Linked DNA regions of Homo sapiens: region 1 is linked to region 2. The links come from fine-mapping of genetic effects on gene expression. A gene starts in region 2. The other region holds a variant in brackets. All regions are shown on one strand. Distances are from middle to middle.

Region 1 (9,062 bases), 360 kb before region 2:
TAGCCGGGGTCAGATAATTGGGACCAGAACTCTAACCCTTGGCCATGCCCATTCCAAGGAGGGAAGCCAGGAGATCTGTGTCTGCCTGTCCCAGAGGTAAGAGGCCCTCCAGCCAGGCCACTGTAAGGAGGCTGGCCCACCTGGTGCATATTCCATGGCGATCATAAGGGCTTTGTCTTCCAGGAAGTTCTCGTAGTACTCAATGACATTGGGGTGGTTGAGCAGCTTGAGGACCTGGCACTCATTCTGGGCTGCCTGCCGCTCTTCCTTGGTCATCTGTTCCACTGGAATCTGCTTGATGATCACCAGCTTCTGGTCAGCCTTTCGCAGGCACAGGTGCACAATCCTAGGGATACGGAGGACAGGGACAGGTTACCAGCTAAGCCTCCAGCCACATATCAGGCAGGGCGGTGCAGCCTAGTGACTGATGTCTCTTGGAAGAGGGTTCTAGACTGAGAGGTCATCTAACCAAGCGCACAGAACACTGAACTTGGGAACAGGGAGAACTGATTACAAGCTGTGTGGGACTTCAGTTTCACCACAGGCACTGTGAGGTAAAGTTAGTCTTGATCTCTAAGTTCCCACAGACTGCCTGGGTTCAAATCTGGGTGCCTCCTCTTACTAGTTATCTGGTTTGATACATTATGTGACATCATTGTCTGGAAAATGAAATGGGCCTCCCAGGGTTGTTGAGAGGATGGAATGAGAAAATGCATGTAAGGCACTGAGTGCAGTGACCAGCACAAAGAAAACGCTCAATGAATAGAAGCCATTCATATTATTTTATTTTAATTCTGTGGTTAGTCTCCATAAAAGCAGGGACTACAACATTCTTGTTCACCACAATAACCCCAGTGCATAGCCCAATATTTAGCACACAATAGGCAGTCAATAAGTATTTGTTGAATGAGTGGACTATAAGCTGATCTAAGTCTCAAATTTTTACCTCCAGATCAGGCTTCTCTTCTGAACCCTAGACTCAGATATCCACTTGAATGGCTCACAGTCATCCTAAATTTTAACAAATTCAAAATAAAACTCTTGATTCCTGCCTCCAAACCTTTCCTTGCTCAGTCTCTTCCATCTCAGTAAATGCTACCATCATCCTCCAGTTATTAAAATCAGAAACTGCTAAAATCAGAAACCTGAGGCAGGGCCAAGTGGCTAAGGCCTGTGATCTCAGCACTTTGGGAGGCCAAGGCAGGTAGATCACTTGAGTCCAGGCGTTCAAGACCAGCCTGAGCAACATGGTGAAACCCACTCTCGCAAAAAAAAAAAAAAAAAAAAATTAGCTGAGCATGGTGGCAAGCCTCTGTGGTCCCAGCTGCTCTGGAGGATGAGGTGGGAGGATCACCTGAGCCTAGGACATTGAAGATACAGTTAGCCATGATTGCGCCACTGCACTCCAGCCTGGGTGACCAAGTGAGATGGTCTCAAAACAAAACAACAAAAAAACAGACACTTGAAAATCAGCCTAGGCCGGGCGAAATGGCTCACACTTGTAATACTAACACTTTGGGAGGCCGAGGTGGGTGGAGCATTTGAGGTCAGGAATTTGAGAACAACCTGGCCAAAATGGTGAAACCCCATCTCCACCCAAAATACAAAAATTAGCTGGGTGTGGTGGCAGGCGCCTGTAATCCCAGCTACTCGGGAGGCTGAGGCAGCAGAATGGCCTGAACCTGGGAGGTGGAGCTTGCTGTGAGCCGAGATGGCGCCACTGCACTCCAGCCTGGGCGACAGAGTGAGACTCCACCTCAAAAAAAAAAAAAAAAAAAAAAAAGAAAAGAAAAAAGAAAATCGCCCTAGAATCTTTCCTCCATTTCACACAAGCAAATCCTATTTCTACCTCTGCAATACTGTAAATCCATCCAATTCTCTGTGCCCTCTCTACAGCCCTTGCCCTATAGTCATCATAATTTCTCGCCTAAAATACTGTATAACTCTCCAAAATGGTCCCTTTCACTCCTGTCACCCTCAAATCTAAATTCTACATGAACCAGAATGACATTTATTTTTTATTTATTTTTCTTTTTTTTATAGATATGGGTCTCACTATGTTGGCCAGGTTGGTCTTGAACTCGTGGCCTCAAGATATGCTCCCACCTCGGCCTCCCAAAGTGCTGGGATTATGGGCATGAGCCACCATGCCCAGCCCCAGAATGCAATTTAAAAATCTTACTATCCTGGCTAACACGATGAAACCCCGTCTCTACTAAAAATACAAAAAATTAGCTAGGCATGCTGGTGGGTGCCTGTAGTCCCAGCTACTCGGGAGACTGAGGCAGTAGAATGGCGTGAACCCGTGAGGCGGAGCTTGCAGTGAGCCTAGATTGCGCCACTGCAGTCCAGCCTAGAAGATAGAGCAAGACTCCGTCTCAAAAAAAAAAAAAAAAAAAAAAAAAAAAAAAAAAAAAAAATTGGGGCCAGGCGCGGTGGCTCACGCCTGTAATCCCAGGCCTTTGGGAGACTGAGGCAGGCGGATCACGAGGTCAGCAGATCGAGACCATACTGGCTAACATGGTGAAACCCCGTCTCTACTAAAAAATACAAAAAAATTAGCCGGGAGTGGTGGCGGGCGCCTGTAGTTCCAGCTGCTAGGGAGGCTGAGGCAGAAGAATGGCGTGAACCTGGGAGGCGGAGCTTGCAATGAGCCGAGATGGTGCCACTGCACTCTAGTCTGGGTGACAGAGCGAGACTCTGTCTCAGAAAAAAAAAAAGAAAGAAAGAAAGACAAAATATAGAGGAATGGTCTGATAAGATTTTTTATTTTTCTATTTTTTTTATTTTTGAGAAGGAGTCTCACTCTGTTGCCAGGCGGGAGTGGAGCGGCGCGATCTCGGCTCACTACATCCTCCGCCTCCCAGGTTCAAGCAATTCTCCTCCCTCAGCCTCCCGAGTAGCTGGGACTACAGGCGCGTGCCACCCACGCCCAGCTAATTTTTTTATTTTTAGTAGAGACGGGGTTTTACCATGTTGGCCGGGATGGTCTCGATCTCTTGACCTCGTGACCTGCCCGCCTCGGCCTCCCAAAGTGCTGGGATTACAGGCATGACCCCCACGCCCGGCCTTTTTGTTTTTATTTTTTTTTGAGACAGAGTTTCACTCTTGTTGCCTAGGCTGTAGTGCAATGGCACAGTCTCAGCTCACTGCAACCTCTGCCTTCCAGGTTCAAGCGATTCTCCTGACTCAGCCTCCCAAGTAGCCGTCACAACACCCAGCTAAATTTTGTATTTTTAGTAGAGATGGGGTTTCACTGTGTTGGCCAGGCTGGTCTCGAACTCTTGACCTCAGGTGATCCAACCACCTCGGCCTCCCAAAGTGCTAGAATTACAGGCCTGAGCCACCGTGCCCGGCCCCTTCTTTCTTTCCTTTCTTTCTTTTTTTCTTGTATTATTTCTTTTTTTAGATAGGTTCTCACTCTGTCAACCAAGTTGAAGTGCAGGGGTCTCATCTCAGCTTACTACAGCCTCCACCTCCCATGCTCAAGTGATCCTCCCACCTCAGCCTCCTGAGTAGTTGGGACTACAGGCACATGCCAATGCCACCATACCTGGCTAATTTTTTTATTTTTTTGTAGACAGGGGGACTCATTGTGTTGCCCAGGCTGGTCTCTAACTCCTAAGCTCAAGCAATTGCCCATCTCGGCCTCCCAAAGTGCTAGGATTATAGGCGTGAGCCACTGCACCCTGCCCCTTTTCAGAAAACTCTGCCAAGTCTCAGGATCACTCTTCCTCTTTAAAACCCTTCCTGGTGGCTGGGAGTGGTGGCTCACGCCTGTAATCCCAACACTTTGGGAGGCAGAAGCAGGTGGATCGCCTGAGGTCAGGAGTTCGAGACCAGGCTGGCCAACATGGTGAAACCCTGTCTCTACTAAAAATACAAAAAATTAGCCAGGCATGGTGGCACACGCCTGTAAGGCTGAGGCAGGAGAATTGCTTGAACCCGGGAGGCGGGGCTTGCAGTAAGCCAAGATGGTGCCATTGCACTCCAGCCTGGGCAACAGAGGAGACTCTGTCTCACAAAAAAAAAAAAAAAAAAAAAAAAAAAATTAGCCGGTTGTTGTGGCGTGTGCCTGTAGTCCCAGCTACTCAGGATGCTGAGGCAGGAGAATTGCGTGAACCCGGGAGGCGGAGATTGCAGTGAACTGAGATTGCCACTACACTCCAGCCTGAGCGACAGTGCAAGACTCCGTCTCAAAAACAAAAACAAAAACAAAACAAAACCGTTTGTGGCAAATGAACCTTTTATCTCAGGTTATCAGGCCATAATCTAGTCCCCGCCCTCGACAATTACATTTTATACCATTCTCTACCTTGCCCACTACATTCCAACTATTACTAGTCTTTCTCGGTTTCTTGAATGCTCTGTTTTCCCATGTGAGACATTTCACATACGCTATTTCCTTTGCCTGAAAAGTTCTCCCTTCACCTGCAGACTACTGGTCCTCATTCCTCAAGTCTTGGCCTTAAATCTCACTTCTGGCCTGTCGCGGTGGCTCACGCCTGTAATTCCAGCACTTAGGGAGGCCGGCGCGGGCGGATCACCTGAGGTCAGGAATTTGAGACCAGCCTGGCCAACATGGCGAAACCCCATCTGTACTAAAAACACAAAAAATATTAGCTGGGCATGGTGGCGCGTGCCTGTAGTCCCAGCTACTCGGGAGGCTGAGGCAGGAGAAGCGCTTGAACCAGGGAGGCAGAGGTTGCAGTGAGCTGAGATAGTGCCACTGCACTCGAGATCGCGCCACTGCGACAGAGTGAGACTGCCTCAAAAAAAAAAAAAAAAAAAAAA[AAT/T]CCAAAAAATTTAGCCGGGCATGGTGGCGCACGCCTGTAATCCTAGCTACTCGGGAGGCTGAGGCACAACGATTGCTTGAACCCAGGAGGTGGTGGTTGCAGTGTGCCAAGATCGTGCCACTGAACTCCAGCCGGGGTGACAGAGGGAGACTCTGTCTTAAAAATCAATCAAGCAAGCAAGCAATCTCCCTTCTCAGAGAATTCTTCCTTGACCATCTCATATAAGTATTCTCACTGGTAATGTACTCTATCCTCACAACCTGCTAATAACACTTCATAACTGCTATAACTTCTTACTTCATAATGTTTTGTTTATTGTATAACTTTCCCACAGTCAGTAAGTTCCAAGAGGGAAAAGACCACGCCCGTTCCGGTTCTAACTATATACCCAGCGGCCAAAGCCTGACATACATAGCTGGCACTCAGTATTTGTTGAACGAATGAATAAAGAAGCTAACATAACTCAGTGGGCGGAGCAATGGGCCTGTCAGGGGCGTGGCCTCCGTAGAGGCGGAGTCTCCCCGGGGGACTGGGACCGGAAGCTTGGGCGGGGCTTCCCAGAGTGGCGCTCACGCCTTGGGGCGGGATTAGGCGGGCGGCGACTTCGCGGGCGGAATTGGGGCTTATTTTCCCTATCCCCTAGCAGTTTCCTCCCCCAGAGCCCTGGCTCACCCGAAGGCACCTCTCCCCACCACTCGGATCCGCTCGTACTTCTCCATCTCATTTCTTAGAGTTTCACTTCCGTCCCCCACGCGGCGCGTGCGCGGACCCACCCACTCTGGGCCCCGCCCCTTCACGGCGAGCGGCTTGCGGGGCGGAGCCAGCGCCCTAGGTGTGGGTTCCGCCACGCGTCCGTATTTGTGGGCCTGCACCACACACCTCCCGCTGCGACACGCCGTCACTTTTCCCCTCACGACCCTGCCCCACGCAGTGTCCAAGAATAGGGCAAGAAAATAGGGCGCGCCCGCAATGGCGGGCACGGTACCCGCCCCTCCCACACATATACCCAGCCCTTGTAAAGCTTGCTAGACTAAAAGGATGTCGCGTTCCCGAGAGTTAAACCCCACAGGCCGGGAAGGGGTGGGAAGAGAAGATTGACCCCCTTCTTGCCCACGAGTGACGCTATTTCAGGAGAAAGCGGGTTCTCCTTGGCACGCAAACGATAAACACACCCAAAACGACCGAGACCAGCGCTCCTGGGAGAAGGCAGCAGGGTTGGTTTCGTGTTTGCCTGGGGAGGGACGGGGGAAATCCCAAGTCGTGCAAGTTGATTCACCTGAAGAGGACATGACACGGTCTCGGGCCGTCCCGACTAGTGAGCGCCGCGCTCGTCAGCACTCTCAACTCCCCTTTCACACACGCGCTGCAGGAGGGTAATCTGCCCTCAGTGCTCATCTTCCCATGGGGGAAGATGGGGGCGGTAGTGGGTCAGTACCTGAAAGCATCAAGGGGAGAAGGAAAGACCGCGGTTTCGCCGAAATGAGCTCAAGGCAAAAGCCTAGAGGCAGGGGGCTGGTTAGTGTGACCAGCTAGGCTCTTTACCGGAAGTGAGGTTAATTCCAGGTTCTCCCGGGCTCCTGCTCTGCGGGAGCTCTAGAAAAACTCAGTATTCGGCCAGGCGCGGTGGCTCACGCCTGTAATTCCAGCACTTTGGGGAGGCCGAGGCGGGCGGATCACCTGAGGTCAGGAGTTTGAGACCAACCTGGCCAACATGGTAAAACCTCGTCTCTACTAAAAATACAAAAATTAGTTGGGCACGGTGGCGCGCGCTTGTAATCCCAGCTACTCGGGAGGCTGAGGCAGGAGAATCGCTTGAATCTGGGAGGCGGAGGTTGCAGTGAGCCGAGATCGTGCCATTGCACTCCAGCCTGGGCGATAGAGTGAGCCTCCATCTCAAAAAAAAAAAAAGAAAGAAAGAAAACATCAGTATTCAGGAGGAGGATGGTCACTAGCTGAAGGTTAGCGTCCCTGTATCAGAGTGGGCAAGGGGTGTGAGGAAAGGGGCGTTTTATCTTCTGCCCCTGTCCTGGCTCTCGCAAGGGTATCCAAACCCACCCACGTGGAATGACTGCTGGAAGGGCGCTGGCTCAGGCCGGTGTCGGCCGGCGGACAGAGCAGCTCTGTGAGCCAAGGGGAGGGGCGGGAAAGCCGCTCACCCAGGACACCCGTGTTCTCACCTAGAAACCGACTGGGCTTTGGTTGACTTAAGAGTCCCACAGGGGTTAATGTGTAACCTTGGAGCCATAGGGGAGGAAAACACTCAAACGGCTTGGTCCCTGGGTCCTTGCGCCTCAGGTTTTCTCGGCTTCTTCCTCCCGCCCGCAGCACCTTTCCCCTCCCCCGCTTCTTCCCGCCCCTCCTCTATTACTACCCTCTTCTCCCTCCCCGCTCTCATCTCCGCTTAACTTCCCTCGCTGGCTCTCAGCTGCTCCTCCTTTCGCCCAGAGTTTATACCTAAACTCTCCCCGAAAGCAGCTGCCTCGCTCGGAGGCGGGAGGGGGAGCCCGCGCCACAGTGAGGGCAGGCTGACACCTAGTGGCTAGGAGCCGCAACTGCTGCAAGCTACCGGCTTGGAGAGCGCGGGTCACTCCAGCTGTCCCGGCAAATCGGAGGTCTTGCTTGCCCAGCCTCCGGGGAGCCGGGCCGAGGGCCGGGACTGTCTGAGGGAGGACTGTGACAGCCGCCCGGCCCCAGGAGTTTAAGAGCCGGCGGGAAGAGGTGGCGATGGGTTACTCAGCAGTTCCCAAGTGCCCACCTCGCGGGCGCGGGAGGGACAGGTAAACACGGGACTCCGGCCAGAAGACTGCGAGTGGTGCGGTAGGGGCACTGGGTCTGCACGGAGACCACTGTCGGACGCGGGGCTCCGGAGCCCACCCCAGGACCAGGACTTAGGGGGCGTGGGCGTGTCGGGTCCCGTCCAGCTCTGCGCAGAAAGTAGAGGGCGGAGAGAGCTCTCGCGGTACCCGCCCAGGGCGGGGTAGCCGGTGGCCCGGGGAAAAGTGGGGACGCGGGTTAATGAGGCCAGGCGAGCGAGGGCAGCGGGGACTCCGTCGGCAGTCGGGAGGCGCCAGCGAGGGGTGTCTCGGCGACGACGCCCCCAGCACAGCTCCTAGTTACCCGAAGTCCGCGGGAGCCGGCCGGTGGCCGAGAGGCCACGGGGACACCCGGCTCGCGCGGCAGCAGCGCCTGAGGGGCGGGGGCAGGCGGACGGGGCGGGGGCAGGCGGGCGGGGCGGGGGCGCGGGCGGCTGGGGGCGGGGGCAGAGGCCTCGCAGGGAGGGCGAGGAGGAGCCAAGGGGCCTAGAGGGCTTCGCCAACTGTGTGGGGCTGGCGGCCGGCGGGAGAGGCGGCCGGCCTGGACTGGCCCGAGAGGGATCCCGGTTCCCAGAACAGACCTAGGAGGCGGCCTCGAGGGCGGACGGCAGGGAGGGCCAGCATGCCCCGACTGCTGCACCCCGCCCTGCCGCTGCTCCTGGGCGCCACGCTGACCTTCCGGGCGCTCCGGCGCGCGCTCTGTCGCCTGCCCCTACCCGTGCACGTGCGCGCCGACCCCCTGCGCACCTGGCGCTGGCACAACCTGCTCGTCTCCTTCGCTCACTCCATTGTGTCGGGGATCTGGGCACTGCTGTGGTGAGTGAGCGACTGTGGAAATGAGGTGGCCAGGGGATCCTGAGCGGGGAGCCGGGGCCGGCTCTTGTGTTACTACCCCCATCGCTCACTGGCGGGCTGAGGCCACGCAGTCTCACCTGATCCCGTTTGGTATCCTATCCAACCAAAAGCCGCAGTGGCCCCAGGGGAGGGGGATCGCCCCTGGGAAACTGGAGGCTCTTGGGTTTTGCCCAGCCACTCTTAGCTTCCCAGTCAGCCACTAGCGCGAGCCCAGGATCCCCCGGGGCTGCGAAGGGTAACCGAGAAGTTGATGGTCCTTGAGGGTGCCGAAATGCAGAGCCTCCTCTTCCCTCCTTTCCAGTGTATGGCAGACTCCTGACATGTTAGTGGAGATTGAGACGGCGTGGTCACTTTCTGGCTATTTGCTCGTTTGCTTCTCTGCGGGTAGGTCTTGCCCAGGAAGCGGGAGGCAAATTGGGGACAGGGAGAAGGAAGCTGCTTGTTCAGTTCATGATCTCTTGCCCCATCCCTCCACTAGGGTATTTCATCCACGATACGGTGGACATCGTGGCTAGCGGACAGACGCGAGCCTCTTGGGAATACCTTGTCCATCACGTCATGGTAAGAGAGAAGCAGACTATGTGGTATAGGCCTGGTG
Region 2 (8,884 bases):
GGGTACCCCAAGCTCATCCGAGATGTCTGGGGCATCGAGGGCCCCATCGATGCCGCCTTCACCCGCATCAACTGTCAGGGGAAGACCTACCTCTTCAAGGTGCCAGGGGCTGTGGGCCAGGGTAGAAAGCATCTAGGGAGGGTTTGAGAGCTATTGCTCCCAGGGACAGGGTGGACAGGGAAGCTGGACCCAGGGCCCTGCAGGACCTGGTGGGAGCTCTGTGAGCACAGGGCAGCCCCAAGACTCCAGGTCCTGGGCAGTGAACCTGGACCTGGGAACGGCTGCCTTAGGGCAAGGGACTCTGCCTCTGTGCCCAGCCAGCGGCCTCCATACCCCTTTTCACTTTCCCCACCTCTTAGGGTAGTCAGTACTGGCGCTTTGAGGATGGTGTCCTGGACCCTGATTACCCCCGAAATATCTCTGACGGCTTCGATGGCATCCCGGACAACGTGGATGCAGCCTTGGCCCTCCCTGCCCATAGCTACAGTGGCCGGGAGCGGGTCTACTTCTTCAAGGGTACTCAGGGGGTGGTGGGAGACTGAGCAGGCAGTGGAGCAGTCTTGGATTCCTTTCACATTTCACTGGGGACAGGCCTCAGCATGTGCCCACCCCTGACCCCCACCTCATGCTGGGAGATCCTAACTTCAACAGCCTCTGGGATCTCCAGTCTTGCCCTGGCCCAGCCCTCCTAATGCCCACCACCCTGCTCCTCAGGGAAACAGTACTGGGAGTACCAGTTCCAGCACCAGCCCAGTCAGGAGGAGTGTGAAGGCAGCTCCCTGTCGGCTGTGTTTGAACACTTTGCCATGATGCAGCGGGACAGCTGGGAGGACATCTTCGAGCTTCTCTTCTGGGGCAGAACCTCTGGTATGGAGAGAGGGCAAGTCTTGCTTCTCCCTCAAAAGGGCTGAAACCCCTTGGTATTGGTAGAGCCAGGCCGGCTGGAGGGGGCTGTGGTTGTGGAGCTATCGATCAAAGTCTGTTTGCTCAGGCCAGACTTTGCTTCTGTTGACCTTTTGGGGAAAGCTCAGCTCTACCTGGACCCCACACCTTGGACTTTGCCTAGCACAGCTGAGAGCACAGCCAGCAGAGGGAGGGGCTGTGGCTGAGGAGTTTAGGGGGCCTGGGGGGGTGGGGTCGAGACACCAGTGATATGGTGGAGGGAAAGCACAGGGGGAAGGGAATTGGACTGAGAGTCAAAGGCCTGGCTCTGCCATTCGCTGCTGTGTGTCTTTGGGCAAGGTGCAGCAGATGAACTCTAATGGCCCCGCTGGAAGGGGCAAGATTCGGACCCCCAAGACCTCTCATTCACCCCTTCCCTGCCACAGCTGGTACCAGACAGCCCCAGTTCATTAGCCGGGACTGGCACGGTGTGCCAGGGCAAGTGGACGCAGCCATGGCTGGCCGCATCTACATCTCAGGCATGGCACCCCGCCCCTCCTTGGCCAAGAAACAAAGGTTTAGGCATCGCAACCGCAAAGGCTACCGTTCACAACGAGGCCACAGCCGTGGCCGCAACCAGAACTCCCGCCGGCCATCCCGCGCCACGTGGCTGTCCTTGTTCTCCAGTGAGGAGAGCAACTTGGGAGCCAACAACTATGATGACTACAGGATGGACTGGCTTGTGCCTGCCACCTGTGAACCCATCCAGAGTGTCTTCTTCTTCTCTGGAGGTAGGAGCCGCTGCCACCCCTGAAGCTGGTCTAGCTTGGGTTTTCCTTGCTGTCCCTGGTGCACAAGGGCTGAACGCAGCCTGCAAGTAGTGACCACAGAAAGCCAGGCCAGAAGTCCTTAGCTGCATCATGGATGTTCACTTTCCCTTCTGGGAGAGACCCTAGACTTCTCAAGGGAAGAGTGGGCAGGGCCAGGCTGGGCCTCACGCATCCTCTGCTTTCCTCTCTTCCAGACAAGTACTACCGAGTCAATCTTCGCACACGGCGAGTGGACACTGTGGACCCTCCCTACCCACGCTCCATCGCTCAGTACTGGCTGGGCTGCCCAGCTCCTGGCCATCTGTAGGAGTCAGAGCCCACATGGCCGGGCCCTCTGTAGCTCCCTCCTCCCATCTCCTTCCCCCAGCCCAATAAAGGTCCCTTAGCCCCGAGTTTAAAATTATTGTTCTGACTGGGGTAGACACATCCCTGTCTGGGTAAAGGAGAGGAAGCTGGACTGTCAGAATGGGTTGGTGAGGGGGACAGAGAAGGGACAGAGAAGGGCCTCGCCGTGTCCAACCCATGTTGGGCTCAGGACCTCTCTGTGCTCAGGACCTCTCTGTGAACCGGTTTGGGGCTGGGGAAGGCCTCCTGAGAGCTACCCTTCCTCTTGAGCTAAGCAGCCCCCAGCAACCCACCAGCAGCTAAGCAGACACTTGAACTCCTCTGATGATGACAAAGTTACCAGGCCAGCCTCCGTGGGTGAGGCTTGCTTTGCCCCTTGGAGTTGACTAGGGTCTTGGAGGAGAGAGAAGGGGCAAGAGTTGGTGGGGTTCTGGCTCAGCTTTTTTGTCCATCCTGATCTGAAATCCTAGTAGCTCTGACTCCTGAGCACTTGGGGAACCAGTCACTGTGCTTCCCCAAACCCACCCCTAGGGTGAGCCTTTCTTGAGGTCTCTGTCTAGGGTCTAGGATGGGGAGCAGCAAGACCAGGAGAGATAGTGAAGGGCAGAAACTGAAAGGAAATTCAAAAGCACACACTTCTTGTGGAAAAGTGGCCCAGGAGCCCAGGAGTTTGAAGCTGCAGTGAGCTATTATTGTACCACTGCACTCCAACCTGGGGAATAGAGTGAGACTCTATCTCTAAAAACAGAACAAAATAAAAAAGGGGGGGAATTTTTGTCTGGGCATGGTGGCTCATGCCTGTAATTCCAGCACTTTGGGAAGCCAAGGTGGGAGGATTGCTGGAATCCCGAAGTTTGAGACCAGCCTAGGCAATATAGCAAGACACCATCTCTACAAAAATAAATAAGTTAGCTGGGCAACTTATGGGTGGTGTGTGCCTGTAGTCCCAGCTATTTAGGAGGCTGAGGTGGGAGGATTGCTTGAGCTTGGGAGGTTGAGGCTGCAGTGAGCAGAAATCACACCACTGTACTCCAGCCTGGGCAACAGAGTGAGAAAAAGAAAATTTAGGCCAGGCACGGTGGTTCATGCCTGTGGTCCCAGCACTTTGGGAAACCAAGGCCCGTGGATCATGAGGTTAGGAGTTCGAGACCAGCCTGGCCAACATGGTGAAACCCCGTCTCTACTAAAAATACAAAAAATTAGCCGGGTGTGGTGGCAGGCGCCTGTAACCCCAGCTACTCCGGAGGAAGAGGCAGGAGGTGGAGTTGCTTGAACTCGGGAGGTGGAGGTTGCAGTGAGCCAAGATCACGCCACTGCACTCCAGCCTGGGTGACAAAGCAAGACTCCATCTTGAAAAAAAAAGAAAAAAGAAAAAAATTTTCAAAATTTAAGAAAAAGTGGCTCAGAATATATCCAAGGAAGAGAATACTGTACACATAAACATCTTTATCATCTTTCTTAGAACCCCTCAACTGCACCTGTGGAACCTCCTCTGGTTCCAGGTTCCGAACCCCAGGAAGTCCATCTGGCTCTTGAGGGGCCAGAGAGAGAAAGGGTTAGATGAGGCAAAGCTCTAAAGCAGACCTGAGGGCAATCTGGTGGTGACATCTGTTCCCCAGTCCTGCTGACAGCGGCTGGCTCCCATTCATCCCGTTGACACCCTACCATCCTTCTCATCCTGTCCCACTTCACCAGCCCAGTCCCCAGTTGTGGGAGAGGACTCCACTCCCTCTCCCCTGAAGGTAGCCAGGTTCAGAGCACTAAGGGCTCCAGAAGGGGCAGCCAGTGCCTGGGAGCACTGGAGAGATGGTTTTCTTTGGCTGCCTGGAAGGACCCCTGGGAGGATTTTCATGAAGTATAGGATTTCAGGCACAGACTGCCAGTTTGAGGTTTGAGAAGGGATGCTGGGTCCAGCTTCCTTTGCGAGGCCTTGGAGGGGCAGGGGGTATACAATTTGCCCCACCCATACCCTCATAAGCCCAACCCGGCCTCCAGCCTCCCTTCTTCCCCACCGAGACTTCTCTGCCTTGCTTGAGCTGGACTCTAAACCTCTCCACTCCTGAAGGCGGGGCCAGCCACCCTGAGCATGATAAAACCCAAATGGGGGGGTCTGGTGTGGGCACAGCCCTGGCATGGCCCTCTGGCACGGCCCTCTGGCACCTTACCCTTTGCCAGCTCCATGCCCAGCCCTGTGGATGCATCCTCAGCAGGTGATCTGATGGGGGAAGTGTGGGCAGGGTGAGAACGCAGGCCATGGTAGGATGAGGACGGTTGGAGAGGGGTGGGAGTAGGGACTTCGGGGTTGATTGAGGGCTTTGAGGCTGGGTGGAGGCTCTTGCAGGGAGTCCCAGCTTGACCCCCACCATGGCCTGCAGACGGTGGCAGCGGGTTGGGTTCCCACCGGAGAAAGCGGACCACCTTCAGCAAAGGGCAGCTACTGGAGCTGGAGAGGGCGTTTGCAGCATGGCCCTACCCCAACATCAGCACCCATGAGCACCTGGCCTGGGTCACTTGCCTTCCTGAGGCCAAGGTACAGGTGAGCTGTGACCCCTTCTCACACAGCCAACATCTAGGCTTGGCCCACAGCCCCTTCGCTGGGTAGCCTGCCTTCAGGTTGTTTCCCCTGTCCCTGGGTGGAGGGGATGCTGGGGCCAGAACAGACCCCTTCTTCTTTCCTAGCAGGTGTGGTTCCAGAAGCGCTGGGCCAAAATAATCAAGAACAGGAAGTCAGGAATTCTAAGCCCTGGGTCTGAGTGCCCCCAGAGCTCCTGTTCTCTTCCAGACACCCTCCAGCAGCCCTGGGATCCCCAAATGCCAGGCCAACCTCCACCCTCCAGCGGCACACCTCAGCGCACCTCAGTGTGTCGACATAGCTCCTGTCCAGCTCCTGGCTTGAGTCCACGGCAGGGCTGGGAAGGGGCTAAAGCTGTAGCCCCATGGGGATCAGCTGGGGCTTCAGAGGTCCACCCTTCTTTAGAGCGAGCTACTCCCCAGACTTCACTAGGCAGCCTGTCTGACCTCATCTATGCCTTGGCCATTGTCGTCAATGTGGACCACTCCTAGTCTTTGTCCAGAACTTGCAAGGCCCCTCCTCTGACTCCTGTGGCCCACCCTGCCCCTCCTGGGATTGAACACATCAGAAGTGGATTCCCTGGCCCCACTTTTTATGCAAAGGGATTCCCTACGGGAAAGGAGTTTAGCTCAGGCATCCCTCCCTTCCACTGGCCTCCAGGCCAGCCTAGATGCAGGTCCTAAGCAGACTGGGGCCTGGCTCCTGCCACCCCACACCCTGACCCCTTTGGGGCATATGCTCATTGTTGTGGCAGGTGGTACCTTCAGAAGGATGAGATGAGGGTCATGTTTTCCTCCACTCTTGCCAGGCCTGGTCCCCAGTTCTCACCAGCTGATGGCCTCCTCCTTCTGAAGGGGCAGGCTCCTGTCTCCTGAGGTCTCTCCAGGCCATTACCTTGCTAACTGCTAAGTGAGGTAGGAGAGGAGAGTGCTGCTCCTCATCTAGACTGCTGGAGAGCCAACTTCTTTATGGGTCAGGGCCCCCTCTCTTGACCATCGACCACCTGGACAAATTAATCAGAACTACGGATGTGAAGAGGGAGTGGCATTAAAGTAATGAAGCAAAGATAGGAAGCTGGGGCTTATGTTGATTTAATTTTCACAAAGATCAGATTGGATGCCCTCTGATGTGGGGCTGTGGAGACAACCTGACAGATCTGGGATGGAGGCAGGTATAGCAGCATTGGGTTTTGGTATCACCATCACCTGTAATACCAACTAATCTCCAAATAAAACCCAAACTCTGTACCTTAATCTGGATTGTTGTGCTCTGCAAACGAACGGGGACGAGGGCCGTTTGCCATGGAAATTTATCTCCATCACCTAATCCCTAAATAGGGCCAGGTTCCACACAGATACCTCTTGGTGGGAGGTATTACCCAGGCTTCAGCTGGGATTAGAGGGATAGTTAATTGAAGGGTTTAGGACTCTGACTGACAAGACCCTGGGGAGATGAGAGCCTCTGCTAGCACCCCCAGCTCCTGGTCCCACTGAATCTAGGACATTCCAGTCACCTCCACCTCTGGAGCTGCTCTGCTTTGGAGAGAAAACCATGGTGTTTGCGGTCTGCACTGGATTCAAATCCTGACTTTGCGATGTAACTGTGGCAACTCTGGAACTCTATGTGACTAAAAAATGGGGATACTTATTTGCTCTCTGTTTGGGGTATAAGAAATAATGTAGGTAAAGGGCTTTACATGGTGTGTAACACATCGTAAAAACTCAGTAAACGCTAGTTCCCTCTCCAGACAGGCCCTAAGAAACTGGGAAGGCCCTAAACTTCTTGTTCTTCCCACCTCCTGCCAAGCAGTCCCTGGACCCAGAGTGCATTACAGAAAGCATGGCACAGTGAGGCAGGAGTGGCTAGCAGATGAGAGAGCTCCCTTCTATATGCTGAGAACTGGAGGATAGGGCATTTGGTTCTCCCCTCCCAGTGCCCCCTGCTTTTTCATTGAGACAAGGTCTCACTCTGTCATCCAGGCTAGAGTGCAATAGCATGATCTTGGCTTACTCAGCTTACTGCAACCTCTGCCTCCCAGGCTCAAGTGATCCTCCCACCTTAGCCTCCTGAGTAGCTGGGACTACAGGCGTGCGCTACCATGTCAGCTAATTTCTGCGTTTTTTTGTAGAGATGGGCTTTTGCCATGTTGCCCAGGCTGGTCTCAAACTCCTGAACTCAAGCATCCTCCCACCTTGGTCTCCCAAAGTGCTGGGATTACAGGCATGTACCACCACGCCTGGCTAATTTTTTTGTATTTTTAGTAAAGATGGGGTTTCGCTATATTGGCCATGCTGGTCTTAAACTCCCAACCTCAAGTGATCCGCCTGCCTCAGCCTCCCAAAATGCTACGATTACAGGTGTGAGCCACCTCACCTGGCCCAGTGTAGCTTTTTAACACAAATTTTATATAGCTCAGGTTACTGGAAACACTGTAAAATGCCACCTACTTTTTCTTTTCACAGCTGACACTTCTCCCAACTAACAGAAACTGGCAAACATTGTAGAGGAAGTGTCCACTGAGTGAATGAGTATATAATTTATGAAAACAGAAAAGTGCTTTGGAAAAAAAAAAAAAGACAACAGGAGTACATACAGTGAACCAAAAAGAGTGTACCAGGAGGAGCAGACCCTGAACAGTTAGAACTATGGAAATCGCTATGCTTTGTGTTGTCACAGGAGTTAAAATAGGAATACCCTGCATACAATAAATATTTATTGGATAAATAACTAAGCCTGATACCCTTTTCAATGCGTTATACAGACTCTATCATCACACCACTAATCTAAGTTCTCAGAAGTTAAACATTACAAGACTTCAGAACAACATAGGCGTCTTTGGCTCCATTTAACAGAAGAAGGACCATAGTGATCATTTAATCTCTATGAGTCTGTCTTATCTTCTGGAAAAGGGGCCTAACACCATTTCCTTTTGCAAAAAGGTAGCTGCCTTGCTTCCAGTTCTACCATCCTCTAGCAACCCATCTTTCTCTTATTTGATGTCTCTGATCAGCTCCTCTTCCAGCACAAACTGGAGAAAGGGGATCCTTTCTGTTTTCTTGGAGGCTTCTGAACTCAATTACAGGTCTGCATTAAAAATGTATGGAGAAAGCTGGTGATCAGTTTGTACATATGGACAAGTTCAAGGCAGTATGGTCTACTTCTGGGAAGGCCTGGATTCCATTTGCTCCTGATGGAAAAACCCTAGTCCCAGCAGTGTTTAGAATGAACTGGAGAAGGCAGATGGGTACCAGATTCAGGAAGAGGTACTGATAGACCAAGACCAGTTCTTTCTGTTTTAAAGATGTGTTATCTCAATCTCCTCCAATGCTCCCTTTGGAAATTCACAGAAGATTAGGGCTCCCCACAGAAACAGCAGCTGGCCTGGGCTGGTCTTCTGACTAACTGGAGCTGAATACAAAAAGTCTGATGGGTTGACTGAGTCGGTGACTGCCAATTGGAGCCTGAAGCCCCCAAAGTCTTCTCTAGACTTGATGATGAAGCACCAGTTACAGTTCTCCCAGCTCGCCTTCCATTGCCCGCACCATGACATACAGCTCGGCCAGACCCACCACAGAGGCGACGATCAATGCAGCTAGCACCCGCTGGAGATGGGGAGAACCAGGCTTAAGGGATGCAGGCCAACAACCAGCTCTGTACCCCAGCAACTTTAATGAGGATGGAGAGCCCCCCAACCACCCTCTAAGTTGGGGGAGGGGAAGAAAAGAGAATGTGGCTTCTCCTGGGGTTATTACCTAACCTCCCGTGACTGCTGGAAAGCTCTAATGCTCCCCTTATTAATGGCATAAATATCTGTTCAATACCTAACCTGTGCAAGGCACTTTCACATACGTCCTCCCTTACCCACTAACACCCCCACCAGGGGCACCCTGCCCTGCCCAGTGCCTACTCACCGAGGCCATTTCTGTGAAGATATATTGGCTTCCAAGGTAAGTGCAGACGAAGGCAGCAACCACCGTGACAATGAAATTGAAGATGGTGATGACCAGAGCCTTCAATGATCTCACTTTGGGGAGGAGCCAGAGAGGGCACCTTTAGTTCAACATTCTCTAGGAGGTGCTCTTATCTCATGGCTCCCCCACCAACTGGGTTTCAGTCAAACAACAAGCCTGAGTGTCATGACCCATCTCAGGAAAAGGTTTTAGAAGCCTGATCTCCTAGTACCTCACCTTGCTTTCCCAGGTCGCTGAGAGTCCCACCATGTCTTGTATCCTGGGAAAAAGAAAAAGAAGATGAT

Which allele goes with the higher level. Alleles are on the strand shown, and positions count from the first base shown. SD is a standard deviation of normalised expression in the study named.
For the expression in monocytes after LPS of the gene that starts at base 4,189 in region 2, AAT is the low allele of the variant in region 1 and T is the other (large effect, 1.6 SD a copy in Fairfax 2014).

The links. PIP is the estimated chance that this variant, and not a neighbour inherited with it, causes the effect.
Region 1: its variant is fine-mapped to the expression of SEBOX in monocytes after LPS (Fairfax 2014, PIP 0.95).

The regions. Positions count from the first base shown.
Region 1 is chr17:28,725,267-28,734,328 of GRCh38, reverse strand. It overlaps TLCD1 (TLC domain containing 1), which reads left to right and starts at 8,096. Exons shown (of 4, transcript NM_138463.4): 1 at 8,096-8,425; 2 at 8,766-8,848; 3 at 8,943-9,025. The coding sequence starts at 8,232. NEK8 (NIMA related kinase 8) reads right to left here and starts at 5,541. Exons shown (of 15, transcript NM_178170.3): 1 at 5,469-5,541; 2 at 141-346. The coding sequence starts at 5,515. RefSeq lists enhancers at 4,941-5,664, 5,698-6,137, 5,665-6,388, 7,113-7,836, 7,837-8,560 and 3 more and a silencer at 7,788-8,317. The variant AAT/T (reference allele first, on the strand shown) is at 4,795.
Region 2 is chr17:28,360,504-28,369,387 of GRCh38, reverse strand. SEBOX (SEBOX homeobox) reads left to right here and starts at 4,189. Exons shown (of 3, transcript NM_001080837.4): 1 at 4,189-4,267; 2 at 4,433-4,593; 3 at 4,740-5,882. The coding sequence starts at 4,237. The coding sequence ends at 5,120. It overlaps VMA12 (vacuolar ATPase assembly factor VMA12), which reads right to left. Exons shown (of 6, transcript NM_152464.3): 4 at 8,817-8,859; 5 at 8,541-8,653; 6 at 5,705-8,231. The coding sequence ends at 8,136. VTN (vitronectin) reads left to right here. Exons shown (of 8, transcript NM_000638.4): 4 at 1-99; 5 at 360-516; 6 at 715-867; 7 at 1,329-1,673; 8 at 1,907-2,104. The coding sequence ends at 2,019. It overlaps MIR4723 (microRNA 4723), which reads right to left and starts at 8,734; the gene lies at 8,654-8,734.